Linked DNA regions of Homo sapiens: region 2 is linked to region 1. A link means that fine-mapping ties the variant in region 1 to the expression of a gene that starts in the linked region. Tissue or cell type: whole blood. Region 1 holds a variant in brackets; the other region holds the start of a gene. All regions are shown on one strand. Distances are from middle to middle.

What was found. PIP is the estimated chance that this variant, and not a neighbour inherited with it, causes the effect.
Region 2: it holds the start of MCCC2, and the variant in region 1 is fine-mapped to the expression of MCCC2 in whole blood (TOPMed, PIP 0.93).

What each region holds. Positions count from the first base shown.
Region 1 is chr5:71,653,993-71,662,174 of GRCh38, forward strand. MCCC2 (methylcrotonyl-CoA carboxylase subunit 2) reads left to right here. Exons shown (of 17, transcript NM_022132.5): 17 at 2,751-4,714. The coding sequence ends at 2,868. Among named protein-coding and RNA genes, the nearest start is that of CARTPT, 61 kb to the right of the region's middle. The variant G/C (reference allele first, on the strand shown) is at 4,111.
Region 2 is chr5:71,583,071-71,591,252 of GRCh38, forward strand. MCCC2 (methylcrotonyl-CoA carboxylase subunit 2) reads left to right here and starts at 4,270. Exons shown (of 17, transcript NM_022132.5): 1 at 4,270-4,484. The coding sequence starts at 4,356. It overlaps LOC124900999 (a long non-coding RNA gene), which reads left to right. Exons shown (of 4, transcript XR_007058810.1): 4 at 1-1,184. RefSeq lists an enhancer at 3,929-4,715.

The sequences.
Region 1 (8,182 bases):
TGTTTTTGTTTTTGTTTTCTTTAAAGACAGAGTCTCACTCTGTTGCCCAGTTTGGAGTGCAGTGACGTGATCTCAGCTCACTGCAATCTCTGCCTCCCGGACTCAAGCAATCCTCTTGCGTCGGCCTCCAAAGCTGGGACTACAGACATGTGCCACCACACCTGGCTAATTTTTTTGTATTTTTTGTAGAGATGGGGTTTCACCATGTTGGCCAGGCTGGTCTTGAATGCCTGAGCTCAAGTGATCCTGCCTCGGCCTCCCAAAGTGCTTGGATTACAGGCGTGAGCCACCTGTAATCGTGGCTGGCCAATATTTGGGAATTTTTAAAGGTTTTTTGCTGAATATATATTTTTACAAACAAATTTACAGGTATATTTTATTGTGGTGGTTTGATTCATTTAATTAAGAACAAAATATTTTATAGTCTTTGAGAGCTAAACATGTTCCTGATTTTATCATCGTGTAAACAGACATATAGTAGCCAGTAAATGGAAAGAAGCAATAGAAAGCCGTATAAGAGGTTTGAGATGAAATATAAAATATATATTGTTAAGCTTTTCTATAGTTTTTTTTTTCCACATAAGATTTTGACTGAAATACACAGGGACAGCTGAAATATTAAAGTTTGAAAAATTGTGTATTTTGTGTGAGCTGTTAGCTTGTTTTTCAGCCCTGGCTAAGATAAATCATCTCTTGAGAAAGATTGCATCTTTTATTATTTTCATACTAACATTATTATTATTTTTTAATGGATTACATTCAAGGCAGAAGAGTAAATGGCCCAGAGAGACTTATCTTTGGAAATAAATGTTAACAGACAGTAAAGTTTTCTGTGGATCTGTAGATTTTTTTTTTTTTTTTTTGAGACAGAGTTTCTTGTTGCCCAGGCTGGAGTGCAATGGCATGATCTCGGCTCACTGCAACTTCCGCCTCCTGGGTTCAAGGGATTCTCCTGCCTCAGCCTCCCGAGTAGCTGGGATTACAGGCGTGTGCCACCACGCCTGGCTAATTTTGTATTTTTAATAGAGATGGGGTTTCTCCATGTTGGTCAGGCTTGTCTCGAACTCCCAACCTCAGGTGATCCACCCGCCTCGGCTTCCCAAAGTACTGGGATTACAGGCATGAGCCACTGCACCTGGCCAGATCTGTAGATGTTTAACCCTTCTGTTGAAACAGCTGGTGGCATGGAGACAGCAGCTTTCTTTCAAAGCTGAAAGGATTTCCAAGCCAGTTTATGGTACCTTCCTTGGGTTTAGTAAATCTCAGCTTCACAGTAAAATTCCCTGGCCTGCTTAGGTTTGAACATGGCTAGATCTGTCTTTTCAGAGACAGAGCTTGTTATTATCAGTTACTGAAACCTACAATGTTTTCCTTAATCCTAATAGGTTACATATGTAGCGTGCCAATTTGCTTCTGCTCAGTTGTTTTTATAATCAAACTTTTATCCGGCATTTCATTAGTGCCTCTTACCTGGGGCAGTCTTTTTAATGAACATTATTAAGCAGCCCCTTCATCACCATGCTTGCTGTGCTGCAGGCTTCAGAGGGAGTGTAATCAATTCACCTGGTTGCAGATGACAAGAGTGGCTTTCTTTTTATTGGGTGTTGATACTTTAGGGTCCCTATTATGAATGTTTTATGAGCAAAGGTTTGATTCATGTCTGTCAATGTAAGAATGGTTTAATAGTTGATGCCAGGTTCAGATACCGAAGGGAGTTTATATAAAAAAAGCAAACTGCCACCTACTAATAACCTTTAAAAAGTAATATTTCTCAGTCATTTTTCGTTATACATTTGAGGTTGTCAATGAGAAGGAAACTAAAATTTCTACTTAAAAGTTTCTTCTGCAAGCAGTTTAAAGTTATTGTTTTTCCTATTGTAGCAAAAAATAAAGACCTACATTTGAAGGTATCTATTTTATTAATAAAATGTACTGAAGCTGGCCGGGTGTGGTGGCTCACGCCTGTAATCGCAGCACTTTGGGAGGCTGAGGTGGGCGGATCACCTGAGGTCAGGAGTTCAAAACTGGCCTGGCCAACATGGCGAAACCCCGTCTCTTCTACAAATACAAAAATTAGCCAAGTGTGGTAGCGCACTCCTGTAATACCAGCTGCTAGGGAGGCTGAGGCAGGAGAATTGCTTGAACCCAGAGGGCGGAGATTGCAGTGAACTGAGATCGTGCCACTGCACTGCACTCCAGCCTGGGTGACAGAGCGAGACTCCATCTCAAAAATAATAATAATAATAAATAAGATAAAATGTACTGAAGCCTATTCAATAATTTTCATAGTTTCTTAAGAGTTTGGATGGGGGTTGGGGAATATACATTTTCCAGTAAAGTTTGAGGTTATTACCTGGGTATATGTGGTTCTGCATATTAATGACAGAATACACCAACTTGGCTTATATATTTGTGTGGGAAGAAAAGGAATAGGAAAATTTTTCCTGAAATAAGTAAACGTATTGTCAAATTAGGGGTTACTTTGAGATCTCTTATAAAAGTAGTTCCTTAAGCCTTAAGCCTGACATGACATTCTGTGGTGGCCTGGGATGAAGGTCATATCATTTTTTTCCACGTTTTCCCCCTCTGTCTTGAACGTAGTTTCTGTTGTGAGATTATGGTACATGGATGCTAATCAGTAGATCCATATATTACCTGAAGGAAAACTTCCTTGGCATTTCTGCACATGGAGAGTGTATAAATGGTAGTTTGGTGGTAAATTCATAACTCTTTTTTTGTTCTTTTGTCAGGGTATGGGATGATGGGATCATTGATCCAGCAGACACCAGACTGGTCTTGGGTCTCAGTTTTAGTGCAGCCCTCAACGCACCAATAGAGAAGACTGACTTCGGTATCTTCAGGATGTAACTGGAATAAAGGATGTTTTCTGTTGGACATGTACTGAAAATTAACACATGTAGTAGCCTTAAAATTTTAGACTTCTCGAACATGAGGCTGTTACAGTAATTTTTTTAACACTGTGCATTGTACTTTTCTACCTTAAAAAAATCAGTGAGGATATTTATTTAATGAACATCAATTCCTTTTAAATTTTCTTAGAGAAATTTCTCTGTGGCTCAGTTTTACCACCCATAAAGCGGAGACAGTAATTTACGGTTATCCTTTCTGACCCACAAAGTATGAAAAGTTCTGTAATCTGTAAACTCAGTTCTGTAATCTGTATTATTGAGATGATTAATATAAAGTTGTATTTTCACTGAAATGATTGTTTTGCTGGTTATGCTTGGTGATATTTTAGCGGGCTTATTTTTGAAAGGCATCTGTTACTTCAGTGGCATAAAGTGCCCTCACACTGCTGTGCAGCCATCACCACCATTCATCTCCAGAATTTGTTCTCAGTCCCAAACTGAAACTATACCATTCAAACAACAGCGCTCCCCATTTCCCCCTCCCCCGAGCCCATGACATCTCCTTATTATTATTTTTTTTTTGAGACAGGGTGTTTCTCTGTTGCCCAGGCTGGAGTGCGGTGGTGTGATCTCGGCTCACTGCAGCTTCCACCTCCCGGGTTCAAGCGATTCTTGTGCCTCAGCCTCCCAAGCAGCTGGGACTATAGGCACGCACCACCACACCCAGCTAAGTTCTGTATTTTTAGCAGAGACGGGATTTCACTAGGTTGCCCAGGCTGGTCTCAAACTACTGACCTCAAGTGATCCACCCGCCTCGGCCTCCCAAAGTGCTGGGATTACAGGTGTGAGCCACCGCGCCTGACCACATCTCCTTATTCTTAAATGTATGTGTTTCTCATGGTTTGATTTATTCTTGCTGGGCCATTTCAGCCCCTGTCATGGCTTCACTCGCCATCTAAATGCAGATGATTACTGCCTTGACGGTTCTTAACCCAGCTCTCCCCTGAGCTGCAGGCCTGCATATCCAGTAGGTCTACTGGACATCTGTACTGGTTGTTGTGGAGGAACCTCTGGCTTGCTCATTAAGTCCTACTGATTTTCACTATCCCCTGAATTTCCCCACTTATTTTTGTCTTTCACTATCGCAGGCCTTAGAAGAGGTCTACCTGCCTCCAGTCTTACCTAGTCCAGTCTACCCCCTGGAGTTAGAATGGCCATCCTGAAGTGAAAAGTAATGTCA[G/C]ATTACTCCCTTCAGTGATTTCTTGTAGAAGTGCCAATCCCTGAATGCCACCAAGATCTTAATCTTCACATCTTTAATCTTATCTCTTTGACTCCTCTTTACACCGGAGAACGGCTCCAGCTGTTCTAGCTCTCTTTCAGTTCTTTGAACCTTCCCACCTTAGGGTCTATAAGGTTCCCTCTGCCCAAATTGTTCTACTCTCCCTTCTTCTTCAACACATCCTTCAGTTTAAGCACTTGCTTCTCTCAGTTTAAACTCCACTTCCTTAGGGATGTCTCTGTGACCTCCCTGTGCTGGATTAGCTTCCCTACTCTATGCTCTTGTAAAACACTATCTACTTCCTTTGTCATAAACTCATCATTTTCCTATAAACATTAATATTGTCCTCCTGCTAGAATGTAAGCTCCGTGAGAGCAAGGATCCTCCTGTTTACCCTGTACCTCCAATGTCTGGCACTTGTAGGTGCTCAAATATTCGTTGAATGAATGAAAAATCCATATTGTAATTGATGTCCTCTGGCCACATAGTTTTAAAATTAGGTGATTGATTATATGACCGAATAGAACTATCAAATGTTTTCCTAATAAAGTCAATATTTCAAACATTTGTGTGTGATATTTAGTATTTTAAACATTTGTGTGTGATGTTCAATGTGTACCAGGAAGTCAATTTAGTTTTTGTGGGGAGAATATAGATAGATGATCAAATTCAGTGGTAGGTTACATTTTCAGAAGCAATACATTAAGTATATTAAAATAGTAATATTAAAATTTTAATGAAAATGCACATCTATGTCAAAATGATTTTCTATATAAAGACTAGGTAATATTCCTTTGGTAGGAACCATTAACAAGTCAAGGATTCATGGATATTTTAGGACTGCTTTTGCTTTTCTGGGAAGAAACTGTCCATCAATAAAACCACATTTAAGTGAATTGGATTTTTTAAAACTTATTTTTCTAGAGGCAGGGTCTTGCTATGTTGCCCAGGCTGGACTCGAACTCCTAGGCTCAAGCAATCCTCCTGCTTCAGCCTCCCAAGTAGCTGGGACTACAAGCTTGCACCACTACGCCTTGCTCTATTTTGTATATTTTACCCAACAATAAACATTTATAATTGTCTTACCAAAATAGGTAATACTTTTTAAACATTTTGACTATCATAAATATGAATTCCAGCAAGGATAATATGAGCTACTTGGAATTTGAAGAAATATACAAGTTAGTCTCTAAATTTGCCCCTGTTGGTACTTAAAGAATGAAAAAGACAAGATTACTTCTATTTTTCAGTTTATAAGAAAAGTATTTTCAAATCGAATTTGTTAAAAAAAAAAAAACACTTCTGCACCAGCAGAAGGCACTATTGAGTGTTTGAGTGACACCATCATTTGCCAACATGCTTATGTGTATGTCTCTCCAGAGAGAGGCCATATGTTTCCTTCACAGGGATAAATCAAAGCAGGTTTTGGAATGATACATTAATAAGATTATTTTTGAGAGGCCACATTAGTTCTAAAATGCATTGAGTTTGGTTTTATGGAAGATTAAATCTCCACTAAGAGTCTTGGCGATTTTTTTTTTCTTAGTGATCTTCTAATGATTGGTTCTGAAGTTTCATATATGGAAAAATGGCAAGAAGATGAACTAGGTTATCATAGCCTAGTGTCATTCATAACATTTCCCTTAAAATGTTACAATTAAGTACAATTAATATTTAATGATGACATAGATTTTAATCATTTTCGACAAAACGTTTTGTGCCTTTCCACTAAACGCTTAAAAATAGTTTGTTTCAGCGGGGCACCCTGGCTTAACACCTGTAATCCCAGCACTTTAGGAGGGTGAGGCAGGAGGATTGCTTGAGCCCAGTGGTTGGAGAACAGCCTGGGCAACATAGCAAGACCCTGTCTCTACTTAATAAATAAATAAATAGGTAAATAAATAAATAGTGCTTTTATTTTATGTGCTTCAAATTCTCTTGTATCTGGAATCAGGATCCTGAGGACTAAGTTTTTCTTAGGGATGAATGAAATTTCTATGCCCCTTTTACCTTTCTAGGCAAATGTACATTCCATCAAGTTGACTGTGTAACTTACCATCCACATTGGGGCTTTTGAGAGTGAGAAAAAGGGGGTCTTAATAATAACTACACTGGGAAACAGGTCTGAACTGGGACCGACTCATCCCAGTTTGAACTGGGATGTGTGCTCGCTGCCTGTAACATCATCATGACTGAATACTTTGTTTGCATATCAGCTTTTGAAAATTCTTAGAAGCCTTCGCTCAAGATACCTGCTTCATGACTTTCAATATAGATTTCAGTATGATACCAGTCACATAATATGTGTGCATTAGCATTCTAGGGAGTCATTTAATTGACCCTAGAGGAGAGTTTACCATAGGGCAGGGATGATTTTGTTTCCCAGCTGTTAGTTTTCTGAGATCAGTGGTTCAATATGTCTGGCAGCTTTGTCTTTCACAAACCAAGTCACATGTTTGTGCTACTTTTTAGGGTAAGCAAGAGAAGTATTTTTCAGGGAGAATAAGGTCTTAGAAGGTGATGATTTCACAGAGAAGTTATCGCAAGGAAAATATACCCAGAACCAGATGTTAGAAGTAAGCTGGAGTAGAAAAAAAAATTTTTTTTTTTTGAGTCAGGGTCTCGCTCCAGTGCCCAGGCTGGAGTGCAGTGGCGTGATCTTGGCTCACTACAGCCTCTACCCCTTGGGCTCAAGTGATCCTCTCACCTCAGCCTCCTGAGTAGCTGGGACTCGGGCACATGCCATCACGTCCGGCTAATTTTTGTATTTTGTAATTTTTGTGTTAGCAGAGATGTGTTTTCGCCGTGTTGCCCAGGCTGGCTTCAAACTCCTGGACTCAAGTGACCCGTCTGCCTTGGCCTCCAAAAGTGCTGGAATTATAGGCATGAACCATTGTGCTCAACCAAGAAAAACAATTTTTTTAAGTGTAATTCAGTAAGTGTTGATTGTAAGAAGTGAACTCAGAAGAAAAACAGGTAGAATTTTAGAATACTCAGACTAATTTTAAACGTTCCTGTAGAAAATGTATTCAACATTTTTCAGCCACAGCACTGTTAATGACATTCCTTTATCTACCGGATAATTAGAAATAATTTTTGTCTTAAAGTTATTTGTAATCTAAAAATCTAACAATGTTACTTGCGGAAAATTTAGGAAGACAAAGTGAAGAAAATAAAGTGAAAAAAAAGCTTCATAATCTCACTACCTAGAGATAACTGCTATTAATATTTTTCGTGTACTAGTCTTTTTCTATCTTTACGAATTTTTTTTTTTTTGCAAAAATGCTGTGTGCTACATGTTATTCTGTAATCTGCATTTCACTTAATGTATTGTAAATATAATGACCTGTTTACATGAAATTTAATATTCTGCAAATTTTTTTCTTTTTTGAGATGGAATCTCACTCTGTTACCCAGGCTGGAGTGCAGTGGCATGATCTCGGCTCACTGCAACCTCCGCCTCCGGGGTTCAAGTGATTCTCCTGCCTCAGCTTCCTGAGTAGCTAGGACTACAGGCGCGCGTCACGACACCCAGCTAATTTTTGTATTTTTAGTAGAGACGGGGTTTCACCATGTTGGCCAGGCTGGTCTCGAACTCCTGACCTCAGGTGATCCACCCACTTTGGCCTCCCAAAGTGCTGGAATTACAGGTGTGAGTCACCGCACCCAGCCTAATATTCTGCAATAACTCTGATGTTGCACGATAATGCAGTGCATGAATCCTCCCTTTGATTTAACTACTCCCCTATTGTTGTACCTGTAGGTTTTTTCTGGTTTCCCACATTACAGATAATGCTGCAGTGAACATCTGTTTAGTTTCTTTACATATCTGTGATTATTAGGATACATTTTTAGCAATAGTGTTGTTGGATAAAAGTGTACAGGTTAAAGTATACACAGACCTTTAAGACTTGTTGGTAAGTTTTGCTCTATAAGTGTATATTATGGTATTTATTGCTGGATGTAATGGTTACCGTGGTGTTTTTAGATACAGAAATAGCTTCCCATAGAATTAAATTGTTTAGCAGAAACC
Region 2 (8,182 bases), 71 kb before region 1:
AGGATGGACACATTTGGGCAGATGTGGTCAAGACCCAGACTCTCAAATGCCCAAATCCCCTTGAGCTTTTCTCAGAGTGGAGGCAACCTACCCTCATATCCACTCCCCATTCCTGACCAGCCTTTCCCTGTGTAAAAGGCACTTAGTCGCTTCATCTGGGGCAGTTGCCTTATGAGCTGATGCTAGTTCTTGTAAGGGACTGATCCTACCCTGCCTCCTTGCCTCTGGATCTTAACAGAAGTTAGTTATTCCAGTGCAAACCAAAAAGTACTGAACGTGGCCCAGAAAGAGATAGTTTCTTGCCAGTGTGTATTGGCAAGAGTTAGGGAATATGGAAATGGATTGTTACGCCAAGGAAAACAAATATAAGGTTGGATTGGGATAAATGTATAAACATGAGTGCATGTGCTGGCATGTCAGTCATGTTTTCCAAAGATAGTCACACAATGTCTCTCATCTTTTCTGCCAGTGGCCTTGACACTCCTTCCATTGAGTGGTGGGGTCTATGTCCCCTCCCCTTGAATCCAATAGAGTACAACCAAAGTAATACCATGTGATATCCCAGGTAAGGTCATTAAGTTTCTACAGAAGAGACTTGATAGCAAAGGAGAGCCTGCCAGGTCTAACTGCTCATCCTGACCTCCCAGCTTCTTGCCTGGCCTTTAAATAACCCTCCCTTAGGTGTCCTGGAATGTCTCCTTGCTCTGATTCCAGAGCAGTTATTTTTTATGTATTCATTCAACAAATTTAGCGTCTGTAATATGCCCAGCATAGGCCATAAATGATGACACTGACAAGACCCCAAGTTGGAGAAACTAAATGAGCCCTAACAACAAGTGCTGACCCGAGCCACAATAGAGGCCTGTTGAAGGGAGAAAGAGGTAATGAGGTGGGGTCAGGGAGGGCTTCTGGAGTAGGAGATTCCTGAGCCAAGTCCTAAAGGATGTGTATGGGCTCACCAGGTGGAGAAGATGGAACGGACAAGTCTGGTCGTGGAAAGATGCCCTGGGCAGAGGGAACGGTGCGGATAAAGGAAGGAGAGCAAGTGGAAGATGGCAGCCAATGGGAATGAGCAATGCATGGGAAGGAACTGAGGGTGAGATGAAAGGCAGCGCACCAGGCTGCAGAGATCAGCCCTGGCGGTTACATTTTTCAATTAATTCTCTTATTTTTATTATATAAAACATTATTTTGGCCAGGCGCGGTGGCTCACGCCTGTAATCCCAGCACTTTGGGAGGCCGAGGTGGGTGGATCACGAGGTCAGGAGATCGAGACCATCCTGGCTAACACGGTGAAACCCGGTTTCTACTAAAAATATGAAAAATTAGCCAGGTGTGGTGGCGGGCACCTGTAGTCCCAGCTACTCGGGAGGCTGAGGCAGGAGAATGGCATGAACCCGGGAGGCGGAGCTTGCAGTGAGCCGAGATCGTGCCACTGCACTCCAGCCTGGGCGACAGAGCGAGACTCCCTCTCAGAAAAATAAATAAATAAATAAATAAAATAAAAACATTATTTTACTTTATTTTTATTTTATTTTTATTGTTTTTTTTAGAGACAGGGTCTAGCTCTTGTCACTCAGGCTGAAGTGCTTGGCAAGATCATGGCCCACTGCAGCCTCAAACTCCTGGACTCAAGTGATTCTCTCACCTCACCCTCCAAGTAGCTAGGACTACAAGCACATGCCACTGTGCATGGCTATTTTTATTTTTCAGAGACATGGGCTCACTATGTTGCCTAGGCTAGTTTCAAGTTCCTGGCCTCAATAAAACATTATTTTAAAAAATCAGAGATGGCAAAGATTATGTTCCTTGTAATCTCAATAGTGGGGTAGAGAGACACTGGACACTAACAGATGCTAGGTGACTGCTTTTGGCCTTCTGTGCATTTGCACTTCACCTTTTGCATTTTTCTACTTAGCTGTTCTGGGAACATTATACATTTCCAAAGAGCTTCTTGTAACAAAAGTTACAAGAAATAAGAAACATGTATGACTTTTTTTTTTTTTTTTTTTGAGACAGAGTCTTGCTCTGTCACCCAGGCTGGAGTGCAGTGGTGCCATGTCGGCTCACTGCAGACTCTGCCTCTCGGGTTCCAGCGATTCTCCTGCCTCAGCCTCCCAGGTAGCTGGGATTACAGGCACGTGATACTATGCCTGGCTAATTTTTGTATTCTTAGTAGAGATGAGGTTCCACCATGTTGGCCAGGCTGCTCTCAAACTTCTGACCTCAGATAATCCACCTGCCTTGGCCTTCCAAAGTGCTAGGATGATAGGCATGAGCCACTGCACCCGGCCAAAACAGGTATGACTTTTAAAGAAAGCAAGGAATCATATCCTATTGTGTCTTTTCTGTCTTCGGGTGGTGATTTTAAGTACTTTGCATCATTGAAGAACTATTTAGAGAAAAATAAAGTGTGGCAATTAAAATATCAAACCCTCTCTTCTGATACCCTGATACATATGAAAAGTCAGTTTTTACTGGCCTTTTTTTCTGTTGACCATGGGAGGCAAGCACAGTGTAAATCATACCTTTGCAGTTTAGCTCATGCTCTCCTCCATTTGCACAAAGCCTGGCCATGTTCATTGCTCAGTCCACTCTCAACGCTTCTGCAAGGCTCAGCTGCAACCCTTTCCCAATTGCATTCTGTTCCTTTAATGTCTGTCCTACACAGTTCAGTAAGAAATCATGTGGCCATTTGTATTATTTTCTTATAAGTACCTTGAAGTCTGAACCTAAGTTTACCTCCAGGTGTAGACGCACCCTTTCTCTACCCCATCCTCCCCCTTTACTCTGCCCCACTAAGCAACCAATGGAGTAGAAGTAGTAAGTGCTCAATAAATATGTGAATGAAAAACCTTAAGTTCAAGGCATTTTGTATAGAATGTTTTAATTTTTATGGGTATATTTGGAGTCCTTTATTTAAGACCACAGTGCTGATGTCCACAATCTGTCACTACATAGTGCCTGGTGTGGTGGCTCATGTCTGTAATCCCAGCACTTTGGGAGGCTGTGGCGGGCAGATCGCTTGAGTCCAGGAGTTCAAGACCAGCATAGCCAACATGGTGAAACCCCTACAAAAATAAAAAATTAGCCGGGCTTGGTGGCACAAACCTGTAGTCTCAGCTACTGGAAAGGCTGAGGTGGGAGGTCAAGGATTCAGCGAGCTGTGATCGTGCCACTGCATTGCAGCCTGGGCGACAGAGTGAGGCCCTGTCTCAAAAAATGAAATAAAGTAAAAAATAAAAATAACTACATAGCGAAAATAATCAGAAGAATGTTTAAGGTCTCCAGTGAAAGGACAACAGGCTTGTTGTGCTGTTCGCAAGCACGTGTTAGATGCGATTCACTCATGTTGTTGGTGTGTCACTGGGGGTTGTGACTGCAAGTTGTCCAGGTTCTTGGCATTGTGAACAAAGAATTGGACAAAACGCCCAGCAAAGCAAAGAAAGAACAAGGCAACGAAAGAACGAAAGCAGGGATTTACCGAAAACGAAAGTGCACTCCACAATGTGGGAGCGGACCGAGCAGAGCTCAAGGGCCCGGATATAGAATCTTCTTGGGTCCAAATACCCACTAGAAGTTTCCTATTGGCCATTTTATGCTCACCTCAAACCCGATTGGTTGCAAGAAGCAAGCAGTCAGAGGCTAGGGTGAAATTACAAAGTTATACTTCTATGCAAACGAAGACTGGACCCCCAATCAGTCTGATTGGTTGTGGACAGCAACCATTCAGAGGCTGGAGTTAAGGTTCAAACTTGGCAAAGCAAGCCTCCACCAGCAGTAAGTCTGATTTGTCGGGGACAGCCAATTTCCTATCTGCCCTGCGGAAAAGGTGGGGGGGTTTGCAAAGGGAGTAGCCTTTGGTCCTTTTGTTACTTAGGCATGGAAAGTTAGGGTTTTCCTTTCAGTTTAGCTCTAGGAAGTCAGCGTGAGACAGCCTTAGGTTCCCTGCTTCCAGACTTATTCTCCTGCCTTAGGTACAGTCACTATCGTGATATTATCTATCGCTGTGTCAACACAACACCAATCCAAGCCCAACCGCAGCTCTCTCACTGCCGCACCGCTTCGTGAGGGTCGATCCGCCGGGGAGACCTGCTCTCCTGCGCTCGGGACTAGACGCGACCTCGCGGGGCTGAGGCTCTGTCCCTTATTGGCTGGGTCAGGGGGCGTGGCGCGGCTTGACCAATCGCGGGCGGCGCGCTTAGGCACGTGTGTGGACAGGCCTGAGAATCAGAGAAACCTTCTCTGGGGCTGCAAGGACCTGAGCTCAGCTTCCGCCCCAGCCAGGGAAGCGGCAGGGGAAAGCACCGGCTCCAGGCCAGCGTGGGCCGCTCTCTCGCTCGGTGCCCGCCGCCATGTGGGCCGTCCTGAGGTTAGCCCTGCGGCCGTGTGCCCGCGCCTCTCCCGCCGGGCCGCGCGCCTATCACGGGGACTCGGTGGCCTCGCTGGGCACCCAGCCGGACTTGGGCTCTGCCCTCTACCAGGTAGGCTGAGCGCCCCGGTGGCCTGGCCGCCGGTGCCAGGCTAGGAAGCAAGTGGAGGAGGGGCACGCTTCAACAACTGCTGCTCTCTTGTCCGGAGCCCCAGTTGATTCTGTGACGCACGTGAAGTTTGAAGAAGAAAAGCCTAACAGATACAAGAAAGTTTAGTTCACTTTTAGAGCTGGCACTGTACTTTGTGTCTTTGAAATCAGTGGTTCTTAAAGCCTGGTTTAGAATTGCCACCTGGGGAGCTAGCTGAATAGCTGCCTGAGCCCTACTCTGGACCTTGTGGGTCTCAGGTGGAGTCGCTGTGTTTATATTGTTAGTGAACTCATTAGGGGACTTTTGGCAGCCAGCTTTGGGAACCACTGGCCTAGAGCAGCCCAACGAGGGGCGCTGTGCTTAGGAAATTTGAGTTTAAAAGTTGATTATGATGGCCGAGCCCAGTGGCTCACGCCTGTAATCCCAGCGCTTTGGGAGGCCCTGGCGGGTGGATTACCTGAGATCAGGAGTTCGAGAACAGCCTGGCCAACGTGGTGAAACCCCATCTCTACTAAGAATACAAAAATTAGCCGGGCATGGTGGCGCGCGCCTGTAATCCCAGCTACCTGGGAGGCTGAGGCAGGGGAATCGCTTGAACTTGGGAGGCGGAGGTTGCAGTGAGCTGAGATCGTGCCATTGCACTCCAGCCTTGGCAACAAGAGCGAACTCTGTCTCAAAAAAAAAAAAAAAAAAAAGTTGGTTATGTTAATAGAAAATATCCCACAGTATCTTTGAGTGGCTTTTCTTGGAATTAGGAGGCATCATAAGGCCAAAAAACTCAAAACTTGCGAAATATCAGAGCTGGAAAATTTCACTGTGTTCCCACGATTTCTAAGCCTATACAGATAACATCTAAATAGTGCAAACAACACACAATTGTTTGTCAGTCCAGAATGTTTAATTCAGAATTATTAAGTGGTTATTGTGGTCTAGGCACTATTTTAGATATTTGGCATGGATGCGTAGGAATGGAACTAATAATTTTGTAGGGAAGATGGACAAGAAAGCAGGTAACTGTGGTACAGTGTAAGAAGGGTTGTCTAAAGCTTGAGAAGGTGGTTACAGAAAGCTACCGATAGGAAGTAATGGGTGAGATGAATCTTGGGTAAGAGCTGGCCAAGTTCAGGGTGCAGGATGGAAGGTAAGACTGTATAAACCAAGAGAGTTACAAGAACATAGGTACTGAGTTATGAAAGTGTATATCTGGTGTGAGGACTTGAATTCCATGTCTAGGACATGGAATTCATTGAATAGTGTCTGGTGATGGGATTGATTGATTATGGGGCCAGATAGAGGAGGATCTTCCATGCAAAAGCCACATTTAGATTCCATTTGGCAGGTTGTCCATTAAAATATTTAAGTAGATAAGTGGCATGATCCTATGGATATGGTAGAATCATCAGTGTGGTGGCAATGTGGAGGATGGATTGATATAGGGAAAAGACTAGACCTAGGTGACAGTGGAGAGTTGAGTCTTGAGATGAAGGAGTCAAAGTTAGAGTTGTATGTAGGAGGGGGGCATAAATACCTGAGGAGCAAAGATTATAGAGTTAATAACTGAGTGGAAGGGGAAAATGGATGACTTTGGAGTTTCCAACTGGGCAGAATATTTAGTTAGGTGGAACTGCCATTAATACAAAGAAGGCTTTGGTGATGGGTTTTGTATGAATCACCTTTTGCTAGGTTGCGCTTTGTGTAACAAATAATCAAAAAATCTCAGTAACTCACAACAGTAAATATTAGTCTCTCACTTGATTTTGTTTTGTTTCTTAATCTCTCACTCGTGTTGGTGGCCTTTGGTTAGCTGCTGCTGTGACTGTTCCACTGCAGGGTAGGTTCAGGTCTGCTCCATGTGTCTTCCCATTCCTGGACTGAGGCTGAAGAGCAGCCCTGAATTAAACATGCCCTTCTCATGGCCGAAGGCACAGGAGCAAGAGGCTGAACACAAATTGGATTTAAAATCCTTGCTGGCATGTGATGAAATTAATGTGTGCTCACATTAGACAAAGCAAGTCCATGAGGGTGGGGGAGAATGGGATGAATGATCCAGTTTAGCTGTGTTTCCTGATTACAAATAAAAGCAACTATAATAAGTAATAATAATGGCAGGAATTTTATAGTGTACCCACCATTTTTCTAAAGGCTTTATGTGGTTTTACTCATGTATTTATCATAATGATCCTGTGCAGTAGGTACAATTGTTATTTCTGTTTTATAGATGGGAAAACTGTGGTATATAGGGTCCAAGAAATTTGTCTGAGATAACACAGAGCCTGAATTTGAAGCCAGGTGGTCTGGCTCATAACTCTTGAGTCCAGGGTCTTAACTGTTGCTCTATAATGCTTCTCACTCACCCAGCTCTACCTAGGTGGGTTCTATGGTTGAAAAGATGGGGTGGGAAACTTGTCAGTGGCTCAGCTCCAATTCATTATGACTGTCAGGCACTAACCTCTGTGGTTGCTCAGCTTCACAAGAAAATTACTAGGTTGTAGAATGTTGTTTCGCAGGTGATTAAAACACACACACACACACACACAAACACAAACACCTGGCGTCCTGAGAGATCAAGATTTGCCAAATGCAGTATCAGTAAGTAGGGAAACTGAAAGTTGAACTTGGTTTTGCCACTAAACTACACTGCCTCTTGGTTAGTGAGTCTCATCCTAAGGAGGCTAGGTTGGTTGATAAAGGATTGCCTGGGAGGTGAACTGTAGCCAGTACTGGCTCTTCTGTGATTTAAGTCTGATGGGCTGAGCTTGGCACAGATGTTGCCCAGTCTGTAGAGGCAAATGTCAGCTTCAGTGGGTCAGTGCTTTTCTTCTTTGACCCACTGGTTGCTTAAAAGTACGTTGTTTAATTTCCATATATTTGTGAATTTTCCAGTCATCCTTCTGCCATTGATTTCTAGTTTCATTCCATTGTGATTGAAAGGATACTTTTGGGCCAGGCATGGTGGCTCAGGCCTGTAATCCTAGCGCTTTGGGAGGCCGAGGCTGGTGGATCACCTGAGGTCAGGAGTTCTAGACCAGCCTGGCCAACATGGTGAAACCCTGTCTCCACTAAAAATAAAAAAATTACCTGGGCATGGTGGCGCACGCCTGTAATCCCAGCTACTTGGGAGTGTGAGGCAGGAGAGTCGCTTGAACCCGGGAGGCGGAGGTTGCAGTGAGCTGAGACTGTGCTACTGCACTCCAGCCTGGGCGACACGGCCAGACTCCGTCTCAAAAAAAAAAAAAAGGATACTTTGTATGATTTCAGTCTTTTAAAATTTATTAAGATTTGTTTTGTGGCCTGACATGTAGTCTATCTTGGAGAATGTTGCCTGTGCACTTGAGAAAAGTTACATACTTTTTTCTGCTGTTGTAGGGTGACAAGTTCTGTATATTGTGTTAGCTCCAACTGGTTCTTTCCCTAATACCATGCTGCTTCCTTGTTTTTTATTTTCTGGATTTTGCAGAGCAAGAGAATGTAGCAGAAATCATGACCCTCAGAGCTCTTGGAGCTGTAGAAAATAGGAAATAATGGAGATATACTGTAGACTGAATATTCATCTAAGTTTGAACAGTTAGGAAGTTGCTTAGTGTTCTGTCAAACAGAAGGAACTAAATAACTAGAGATGCTAATCACATGGGGAGCAAAATGTATTAGTGGGCCAAGTC